2 separate regions of the Homo sapiens genome follow, and region 1 is linked to region 2. Evidence: fine-mapped expression QTL. A gene starts in region 2. The other region holds a variant in brackets. All regions are shown on one strand. Distances are from middle to middle.

What was found. PIP is the estimated chance that this variant, and not a neighbour inherited with it, causes the effect.
Region 1: its variant is the best candidate, but not a certain one, in a credible set for the expression of RUSC2 in whole blood (INTERVAL, PIP 0.55).

Annotation. Positions count from the first base shown.
Region 1 is chr9:35,581,535-35,586,908 of GRCh38, reverse strand. No RefSeq gene overlaps it. Among named protein-coding and RNA genes, the nearest start is that of CIMIP2B, 20 kb to the right of the region's middle. The variant G/A (reference allele first, on the strand shown) is at 2,545.
Region 2 is chr9:35,487,249-35,492,622 of GRCh38, reverse strand. It overlaps RUSC2 (RUN and SH3 domain containing 2), which reads right to left and starts at 2,512. Exons shown (of 12, transcript NM_014806.5): 1 at 2,451-2,512. LOC105376026 (a long non-coding RNA gene) reads left to right here and starts at 996. Exons shown (of 2, transcript XR_929580.4): 1 at 996-1,192; 2 at 1,367-1,504. RefSeq lists a silencer at 2,544-2,843.

The sequences.
Region 1 (5,374 bases), 94 kb before region 2:
ACAGAATTCTTGGCTGATAATTGTTTTGTTTAAGGAGACTGAAAATAAGACCCCAATCCCTTCTAGATTGTAGGGGTTTCTGCTGAGAAATCTGCTGTTAATCTGATAGGTTTTCCTTTATAGTTTACCTGATGCTATTGCCTCACAGCTCTTAAGATTCTTTCCTTTGTCTTGACTTTAGATAACCTGATGACTATGTGCCTAGGTGATAGTCTTCATGCGATGAATTTCCCAGGTATTCCTTGAGCTTATTGTATTTGGATGTCTAGATCTCTAGCAAGGCCAGGGAAGTTTTCCTCAATTATTCCCTCCAATATGTTTTCCAAACTTGTAGTTTTTTGTTTTGTGTTATTTTGTTTTTGAGACGGAGGTTTGCTCTTGTTGCCCAGGCTGGAGTTCAGTGGTGTGATCTTGGCCCACTGCAACCTCTGCATCCCAGGTTCAAGCAGTTCTCCTGCCTCAGCCTCCCGAGTAGCTGGGATTACAGGCATGCACCACCACACCCAGCTAATTTTGTATTTTTAGTAGAGATGGGGTTTTACCATGTTGGTCAGGCTTGTCTGGAACTCCTGACCTCAGGTGATCCACTCGCCTTGGCCTCCCAAAGTGCTGAGATTACAGGTGTGAGCCACCACGCCTGGTCTCTAGAGGGTATTTAAACCCCAGAAAATTCTGTAACTGATGCTCTTGAGCCACTTGCTTGAGCCCACTCCTACCCTATGGGGTGTGCTTTTACTTAAAATAAGTTTCTGCTTTTACTGCCTTGCTTTGTGTGTTTTGTCTGATTATTTGTTCAAAACGCCAAGAACCTGGACAACTACCCTCAACCAGTAACACTATTGCTCATTTATTTCTGGTGTTCTTGGGTCTTACGGGGTTATAGACTGTGTGACTCCTGGAGGGGAAAGGGTGGCCAACATACAGTCACCTCTGTTTCATGTTTTTGATATACAAGGGAAAGCTATTCTTAAAAGAACAGGTGACTCCCCAGGGAGTCAGGAGTGGTTACAGGGCATGACTTCTTCCCACTCATGGCCACAAACAAAAACAAGCCCAGTTGGAGCACAAACAGGGTCCCTACGGGGTGCGATGCCTACCCTTTGCTGCCAAGTTGTGTCTATAGAGATATTTTTCCCTGTTCTAATTGGGGTGGTTGAACAATCTTTGTTTTCCAAAAGGGGAGGAGGTACTCCCACCTTCCCAGACTAAATAGTTGTTTTTCTCCCATGTGTTCCTTTTTTTTTTTCTCCTGTATGTTCTGATCCAGGGGAAGGAACCATAGATGGTCTCATTGCTTACAAGTTCTATCCCATTTACTTTGCTGTGGCATTGGGAACTTGGCAACTAAGGCTGGATCAGAGCATTGCAGGAAACTTGGCTTTTGTGTCATTAACACAACACTGGGTGCCAAAGATAGAATCATTAGTGCACTAGAAGTATAGATACCCAACTTTCCAGGTCCACATAATAGCAGTGAGGGGGTTCAGGTGGAACCCATTAAGTGGGGGAGAGTTCCATCTAACAAGTAATAGTCTGGGGAGAGGCAGTGAGATTTTTCCGGGTAGGCCTTATGGACTTGCTTTTTAATCAGCTGTAACTCTGCCTCAGCCTCCTTTGTTAATTGTTGAGGGCTAGTGAGACTAAGATCTCCTCTAAGGATAGAAAATAGATTACTCATGGCATAGGTAGGAATGCCTAGAGCAGGTTGTGTCCAATTAATGGTCTTTAGTCATTTTTGAAAGTCATTTAATGTTTTCAATTGATCTCTACGTATGGTTACTTTCTGTGGCACAATTGTAGTGTCATTTACTAAGGTCCCCAAGTAGGAGTAAGGAGTAGTAGTCTGAAATTTGTCAGGGGCTATAATTAAACTGGCAGGAAAAATCAAGTTTTGCAAGTGATCATAACATTGGAGTAATATTTCTCGAGTGGGGGCAGCACAAATTATATCTTCTATACAATGAGTAATGTAACACTGTGGAAATTTTTTACGAGTCGGTTCAATTGCTTGTCTTACATAAGTCTGGCAAATTGTTGGACTGTTCAACATGCCTTGAGGCAACACTTTCTAATGAAAATGCTTAGCAGGCTGCAGGTTGTTTACTGCAAGAATTGTAAATGCAAACCATTCAGTCTTGCTTAGCTAAGGGGATAGTAAAGAAACAGTCTTTTAAATCTATGACTATTAAAGACCAGTTTTTTGGAATCATAGCAGGAGAAGGCAGTCCTGGCTGTAATGTCCCCATAGGTTGTATAATTGAATTAATGGCCCTTAAGTCAGTTAACATTCTCCATTTACCTGATTTTTTCTTAATTATGAAAACTGGAGAATTCCAAGGGGAAAATGTTGGAGCTATGTGTTCTTTTTCTAATTGTTCAGTAACTAAGTCCTCTAAAGCCTCCAGTTTCTCTTTACTCAGTGGCCATTGTTCTATCCAAATTGGCTTATTCATTAACCATTTTAAAGGTATAGGTTCTGGAGGCTTAAAAATGGCCGCCATCAAAAATAATAATCTTAAACCTTGGTGGGAAATTTGTCTTTCC[G/A]CTTGAAGCGGTTCCTTCGAACTTTGCAAATTTTTTCCTAGTCCCGTACCAGGAACATACCCCATTTTATGCATCATATGTTGACTTTGAGGGCTGTATAATTGTTCTGGAATTAGAACTTGTGCTCCCCATTGTTGTAATAAATTTATAGGTACAGAAGTTATAATTGGTTGAATAGTCCAGGTTGTCCATTGGGCCCTTCACAATGCAAAATATAACTACTTTAATATACTTCAGGGGCTTTACCAACTCCAACTATGTTAAATTGAGCGGGTTGAATTGGCCACGTGGACGGCCAGTGCTGTAGATAAATGATTGAAACGTCCACTCCTGTATCTACCAAACCTTTAAATTTCTTTCCCTGAATAGTTATTTCACAGGTAGGATGTTTATCAGTAATTTGATTCACCCAATAAACTGCTTTGCCTTGTTTATTTGTGCTTCCAAATCCTCCTGTTCATTTAATTTCACTTTTCCCCATTTCTACATATGGCACAATCAGGAGTTGTGTTATATGCTGTCCTGGCTCTGCTTTCCAGGGAACAGAAGTAGATATAACAACGTGAATTTCCCCATTGTAATGTGAATCAGTGACTCCTGTTTGTACTTGCACTCCTTTTAAATTTAAACTAGACCTGTCTAGAAGTAATCCTATTGTCCCAGCTGGCAAGGGTCCACAGACCCCTGTTGGAACTTTTTTGCAGAGGTTCCCCAGGCAGAAGGCTCCACAGCTTTTGTGCAGCATAAATCTACTGCGGCACTACCGGCTGTGGCAGGGGACAGACATTGTATAGGGGTGAGGGAATGGCCTGAGCCGGAAATGCCCCGGTTTGGAACGGGCCTGGGACGGGCCCTGAACGGGCCCCTCATGGCATTTCCCGAAATTGGGTTTCCATCCTTATCAAATTTAGAATGATGCTGATTGGCCCAATGTTTTCCTTTTTTACACTTCAGGCATATACCTGGTTCATACTGATAGCCTGTTTAAACTCTTTAAGTAATTTAAAGAGAAAAGCCTCAAATATAGCTATAATATTTCTCTGTTGATCTGGGGGGTATATCCTAACAGGGAACTGCCAAGCCTCTATATCACCCTCTCCTTTTCTTTCTTTTTTTTTTTTTTTGAAACGGGTCTCACTCTGTCACACAGGCTGGAGTGCAGTGGCACGATCTCTGCTCACTGCAAGCTCTGCCTCCCAGGTTCATGCCGTTCTCCTGCCTCAGCCTCCCCAGTAGCTGGGACTACAGGAGCCCGCCACCATGCCCGGCTAATTTTTTTTGTATTTTTAGTAGAGACGGGGTTTCACTGTGTTAGCCAGGATGGTCTCGATCTCCTGACCTCGTGATCCGCCCACCTCAGCCTCCCAAAGTGCTGGGATTACAGGTGTGAGCCACCAGTTCCGGCCTATATCACCCTCTCTTCTAGCTTGCTGGATTCCTGCCTGAATAGAACTGACAGCAGTCACTCGAAGAGCTGCTCGAACAGTCACTGGGGCAACTACTTTTCGCCCAGTGTCCTCCGTAAAAGAAAGATCTGGAGGGTCAGGCTGCTCTTTTTCTTCAAAATAAGGAGGGAGTGCAGAAAGGTAGGGATGAACTCTTCCTCCTTTGCCTCTTTAGCTTTAGCTGGCAAACAAACCTGCTCTGTTACCTTTTCTGTTACTTTGTTATACTCTCCTTCCTCCTCATCATCAGTGTGAAAAGGTTCCAAGGTGGGACGAACCAGAGCCCACACTTGTCCCATTGTTACCCTGATGCTTCTGAGCTCCCCTTCTTACTCACTACAGGGATTGCTTAAGAGTACTTGGGTGTCCTCCAGCTTAGTTCCACATTCTCCAACCATTGCTCCGGCAACCCTTCGATCTGGGTTCGAGCCCCACTTGCTGAGACCAGCTCCGTCGTGGAGACCCTAACCCAGCCGTGCTGGAGGAATTAAAGACACACACACAGAAATATGTAGTGTGGAGTGGGAAATCAGGGGACTCAACAGCCTGCAGAGCTGAGAGCCCCAAACAGAGTTTGACCCACATATTTATTGACAGCAAGCCAGTGATAAGCATTATTTCTATAGATTATAGATTAACTAAAAGTATTCCTTACAGGAAACAAAGGGATGGGCCGAAACAAAGGAATGGGCTCTGGCTAGTTATCTGCAGCAGCAACATGTCCTTAAGGCACGGATCGCTCATGCTATTGCTTGTGGTTTAGGAACACCTTTAAGCAGTTTTCTGCCCTGTGTGGGCTAGGTGTTCCTTGCCTTCATTCCAGTAAATCCACAACCTTCAGTGTGGGTATCATGGCCATCACGAACATGTCACAGTGCTGCAGAGATTTTGTTTATGGCCAGTTTTGGGGTCAGTTTATGGCCAGATTTGGGGACCAGTTCCCAACACATGGCTGTAATCCCAGCTACTCAGGTGGCTGAGGCACAAGAATCACTTGAACCTGGGAAGAAGAGTTACAGTGAGCCAAGATTGCACCACTGCACTTTAGCCTGGGCAACAGAGTGAGACTCTGCCAAAACAAAACAAAACAAAACAAAGAGTACCTGAGACTGGGTAATTGTAAAGAAGAGAGTTCAATTGACTCACAGTTCCACGTGGTTGGGGAAGCCTTAGGAAACTTACAATCATGGCAGAAGGCAAAGGGGAAGTAAGGCACATCTTACATGGCAGGAGAGAGAGAGAGCGAGGGAGGAAGTGCTACACACTTTTAAATCATCAGATTTCATGAGAACTCACTATCGTGAGAACAGCCTGGGGGAAATCCGCCCCTAAGATTCAACCGTGTTTCTCCCCCAACATTGGAAATTATAATTCAATATGAGATT
Region 2 (5,374 bases):
TTGTTGTTAGGATTCCCTTCTACCCCATCACCTAGCTCTATCAGAGCAATGTTGACATCTGGCTACTCAAAATGATGCTCTCGTTTCGTATGACGGACTCATTTGACAAAAATTATATTAAATGCCAATGTCTGAATGGGTGTTTTTTTTTTTTCCTGGGTAACTTCAACACTGATCAATCAAGACCATTTCTAGATAGCCTGCCCTTACCCTAACATGAAGTGAACCATCTCTTCAGTCAAGTGACTTTTAGCAGGGTGCATAGTCATTGTGTATGAGTAACAGGAAGAAAAGGGTGAGTTATTATCCTAAATTTGCAGATAAGCCCAGAGAGAAAAATAGAACACATAAGCCCTCCCATGAACTTGCCAGATTTAGCAAGTAAAAATACAGGACTCCCTGTTGTTTATTTGAAATTCAAATTTAACTGGGCACTCTGCGTTTTATCTGGCAACACTGAAGTATTGGAGGTGAGGAGAAAAATAACCCAGGGTGTTCTGGGGTAACTGAGGTCTTAACAGGAAGCCTAGACAGGAAAAAGTAGAAAAGGCCATTAAAAAGATACTGTTAAAAAAAAATTGTATTGCTTAATCCATCCAGATCAGGAGCCCCTCCCCACACTGGGTTTCTATGATCCAAGGCTTTATTTTGAGACAGAGCATTGCTCTGTCACCCAGGCTGGAGTGCAGTGGCATGATCTCAGCTCACTGCAACATCTGCCTCCCAGGTTCAAGGGGTTCTCCTGCCTCAGCCTCCTGAGTTGCTGGGACTTCAGCCTCCTGAGTTGCTGGGACTACATGTGCACACCACCATGCCCGGTAATTTTTGTATTTTTAGTAGAGATGGGGTTTCACCATGTTGGCCAGGCTGATCTTGAACTTCTGACCTCTAGTGATCCGCCCACCTGGGCCTCCCAAAGTGCCGGGATTACAGGCTGAGCCACTGTGCCTGGCCTGATCCAAGACTTTATAAAGACATGTAAGAGGGTGGGAGACAGAAAGCGGAAAAGGATACATCAAAACTAGCAATGGATGAATGAGAACATGTCCAGCCTCCAGTTAAGGCAACTGTGGCTTCAAAAAGGAATCTTAAATACCAGCACAGAAATCAGAGGGATCCTAACCTGGCTCAAAACAGAAGAGAAACAGTGGCTGGCCATACAGCAGGACGGGCATAACTAACAGAATACCAGGTATACTGTTTGGATCTGCTCTTCCTTCCATTAAGCCATCCACCACTGCTTAATATCTAAGGAGCCGGCTAAGAAAATCCAGTCACTACTTTTATTTGCTAATACTTTGAGCCCCAGTTACAATAATGCCACTACTAATTAGGTAACTACTTTCTACCTTATCAACTCCTACAGCTTTCCAGCCATTGTTTCATCCCTCAGCGATACCACCTGCTTCCGCGTGGAACCCAAACCCCCAGGAAACTAAATCTGCTCAGGTCACCCACCTAGGAATAAATAAAAACAGGTTTCAGGCCCTTTGTCCTTTGTAAATTCCGCCTTTTTTTTTTTTTTAAGGCCTGTGTTCTTTATCACGGACACTGTTCACATAGTGGTAATCCTTGCCTGACTCAGATCTACTTGTTCCTGCGTTTCATTCCTCCGCTGCTCAATTACTTGTTCAAAACGCAAAGGACAACTGGTAGTGAAGACCCTCCACCAGCAACACTACCATGTGCCAGGCACCGTGCTGGGGACCGGGGATACAAAGATGAGTAGTGTACCGTCCTTGCCCCCAGGACAGTTCCCCGTGTCCGCAGGGCCGGCCTGGAGGGCCACAGCCAACTGTGGGCAACAGGATCACCGTGCCCTTCGCGGCAAGTGAGTGCAGTAGTAGGGGACGGTTACTGCCAAGCCAAAGGTTTTCTCCAGGTAAAACTGGATGACAGAGAGACAGAGACTGAAGCAACGCCGGCGCCGGGCGGATAATAAAGGGAGGCAGGGGCTAAAAGGGTGGAGGGAGCAGAGGACCCGGCCGGGAACTGGCAGTAGGGAGGCCCCCGCTGCAGTCGCCGGCCTGGGTGCCGGGCGGCCACGCTTCCCCAAAGCCGTCACAGGGACTTGGGGTACCAAGGTGACTACTGGGCGCGAGTCGTTTTGTGGGGGGAGGGTGTCCCCAAGGGGGCAGTTTGAGGAGACGGTTGGGGATGCATCTGGGGTGGCGCCCAAAGGGACGGTGGGTGCTGGGTGTTTGAAGGTCCGGTGGACGCAGAGCTGAAGGGTCAGGAGAAGGCCAAGGGTCAGAAGGGCTGGGGACGAGGTCTGCCCAGGGGGTCGGGGCGGACGCAGAGGGCGGGTGCAGCCGAGGGGGAAGGGCTGAAGGGAAGGGCAGGCGCTGAAGGCACATAGGTGGGAAGACAGGCCCTCCCCTAAGGGAGACCTTGGAACGCGGGGCAGTGGGTCTGTGGGACCCTGCCCGCCTCCGGAGAGGCGTTCCTACCTCGTTTCTCGCCTCAGCCTCGTCCTTCCGCGCCGGCGGCGGCGGCGGCGGCGGCGTGTCTCGCCCTCCAGGGGTCGCGTTGCAGGCTAGAGGCGCCGGCGGCCCCTCCCTCCGGGCGGGTTGGAAAGGCCGGCCCCTGTCGGCGTGGCGCGATGGTCCGATCTGGGTTGCCCTCAGGCCGCCCCTCCGGGCGGCGCGTTGGTTCGGTCCGCCCGGCCTAAGGTGCTCGCCCCCTCCCCGGCTCCCGCAGCGATGGGCGCAGCCGAGTCACGCGCAGAGCTTTCCCGCTAAGGGAGCGGAGAGGCTTCCGCCGTGGCCCAATCTTCTGCGGCCCGCGCCCGCCCCCGCGGGGTGGTGCCTGGCGACGCGCGGCTCCCGGGTGCTGGAACCCAGGGAAACCTTCCGCGGGCCTCCAGGGCCGGTGGGTGTGAGTCCCAGCTTCGCCTGAGGCGGCGGTTCTCAACGCTGGCTTCCCAGTAGAACCTAGTGTGGAAACTAACCAAACAACAGAAGGAGGGCTGACCTCACACTGGACCGACTCAGAACCACTGGGGTGGAGTGGGGTGGGGTGAGGTGGGGTTGGCCTCCAGTGCATAGCCAGGGTTCGGAACCCCTGATGAAACGTAGAACCCATGCGCCCCCTGCCCTTCAGGGCCGGATGTGTGGGGGACATGGAAGATGCCTGTGTGTGACTCCTGCTGTTTACAGCCAGAGGGGGATGGGGCAGGCAGTCCTGCAAATGTTATGGGAAACCCACTGTATTAGTCCGTTCTGACACTGCTATGAAGAAATACTATGAAGGAAAGAGGTCTGACTCACAGTTCCGCATTGTTGGCGAGGCCTCAGGAAGCTTATAATCATGGCAAAAGGCAAAGAAGTAGCCATCCTTTTCGCAGGGTGGCAGGACAGAGTGAGTGCAGGCAAGGGAAATGCCAGACGCTTATAAAATCATCAGATCTTGTGGGACTCACTCACTGTCACGAGAAGGGCGCAGGGGAAACCAGCCCCATCATCCAATTACCTCCACCTGTTCCCGCCCTTGACACAGGGGGATTATGGGAATTACAATTCAAGATGAGATTTTGGGTGGGGACACAGCCAAACTGTTACAGGTAGTTAGGCATGAGCGGGGCAGGAGAGGGTTCTCCCCTGCTACCCACTAGGGATGTTGGGTGATGGTTCTGAGGCAGGAGAATAGGGACTGGAGGCAGGGAACCTAAGACTGGTTCATGCCAACTTCCTGGAACTAAATTGAAAGGAAAACCCTAACTTTCCACACCTAAGTAACAAACCCCCCACCCAACTTTTCTGCCCAGCAGATGGGAAATTGGCTATCTGCAACCAATTAGACTGACTGCAGCCGAGTCTAACTTTGCATAGAAGTATAACTTTGTAACTTCACCCTAGCCTCTGATTGGTTGCTTCTTGCAACCAATCAGATGTTTGCACAGGTGTGCGACCTTTGTAACTTCACTTCAGCCTCTGCTTGGCTGCTTTCTGCAACCAATCAGACTGATTGCAGGCTACGAATTCATTTACATGAGGTGAGCATGAAGTGGCGGGTAACTTCTAGGGGGTATTTGGACCCAAGAAGATTCTGTTTCCTGGCCCTTGAGCCGCTGCTCCGGCTGCTCCCACACTGTGGAGTGTGCTTTCGTTTTCAATACATCCCTGCTTTCCTTCTTTTGTTCCTTCATTCTTTCTTTGCTTTGCTGGGCGTTTTGTCCAATTCTTTGTTCAAAACGCCAAGAACCTGGACAACTTGCAGTCAGACCCTCTACCAGTGACAGTTCCATAATTACCTCATTGCTTCTTTAAAAAGGATAATTCGGCTGGGCCAGGGAGAGGCCATTTCCTGATGGTCCACACATGTTAACATCAAAATGCTAATTGAATGCAGGCCTCAGGGAGAAGCAACTTTCTGGGCATGCGTGTTAAGAGACAAAAATGGTGACGTATGATCTCCTGGGGGCACCCTCCACCGGAAAACGGGAAGGAAAGCACTGCGCATTCGGGAAGCCCACTCTAAGGGAAGAATCATGGGAAAGAGGCCAGCCTGTAAAAGTCCTAGGATCTTGGTTAGGCACTTGACCTTCTCTCTTTAACCTTCACGTGCCCGCTTGGGTTTCTTCCAAGCGCACCTTCCTTTCTTTCCTGTTCTAAGGCCTTTTTAAATAAACTTCCATTCCTACTCTGGAACTTGCCTTGGTCTCTTTTTCTGCTTTCTGCCCCACAGTCGAATTCTTTCTTCTGATGAAGCAAGGACTAAAGTTGCTACAGACCCATAAGGATAGGCTGCAGGTAACTTGGGGTAACTCAGACCTCTTCCACCACTAACAAAACCATATCACCCATTGAGAAGACTCTTAGGCTAGACGCGGTGGCTCACGCCTGTAATCCCAGCACTTTGGGAGGCTGAGGCGGGCGGATCACCTGAGGTCAGGAGTTTGAGACCACTAGCATGGTAAAACCCCGTCTCTACTCAAAATACAAAAATCAGCCGGGTGTGGTGGCGCATGCCTGTAATCCCAGCTACTCGGGAGGCTGAGGAAGGAGAATCACTTGAACCTGGGAGGCGGAGGTTGCAGTGAGCTGAGATTGCGCCATTGCACTCCAGCCTGGGCAACAGAGCAAGACTCTGTCTCAAAAAAAAAAATAGAAGACTCTGTTCTAGGTTCCATACTCACTGAAAGAGTTAGAGACTGGGGTCACAGTCAAGGAAGCAGATAAATGTCAGGATATGTAGCTTGTCTTCAGGCTTCACAGAAGTGGTGTGAGCTGAATTTTGAAGAATGAGTGGGAGGTAAAGAGAGAATTGGCATGTGCAAAAGAACTGAGGGGCAAAATGACCAATGTGATTGAGAAGTGTGGGAGGCAACGGAGACAGCTGAGGAGAGCTGGTCAGGGTTTGGTGATGAAACGCC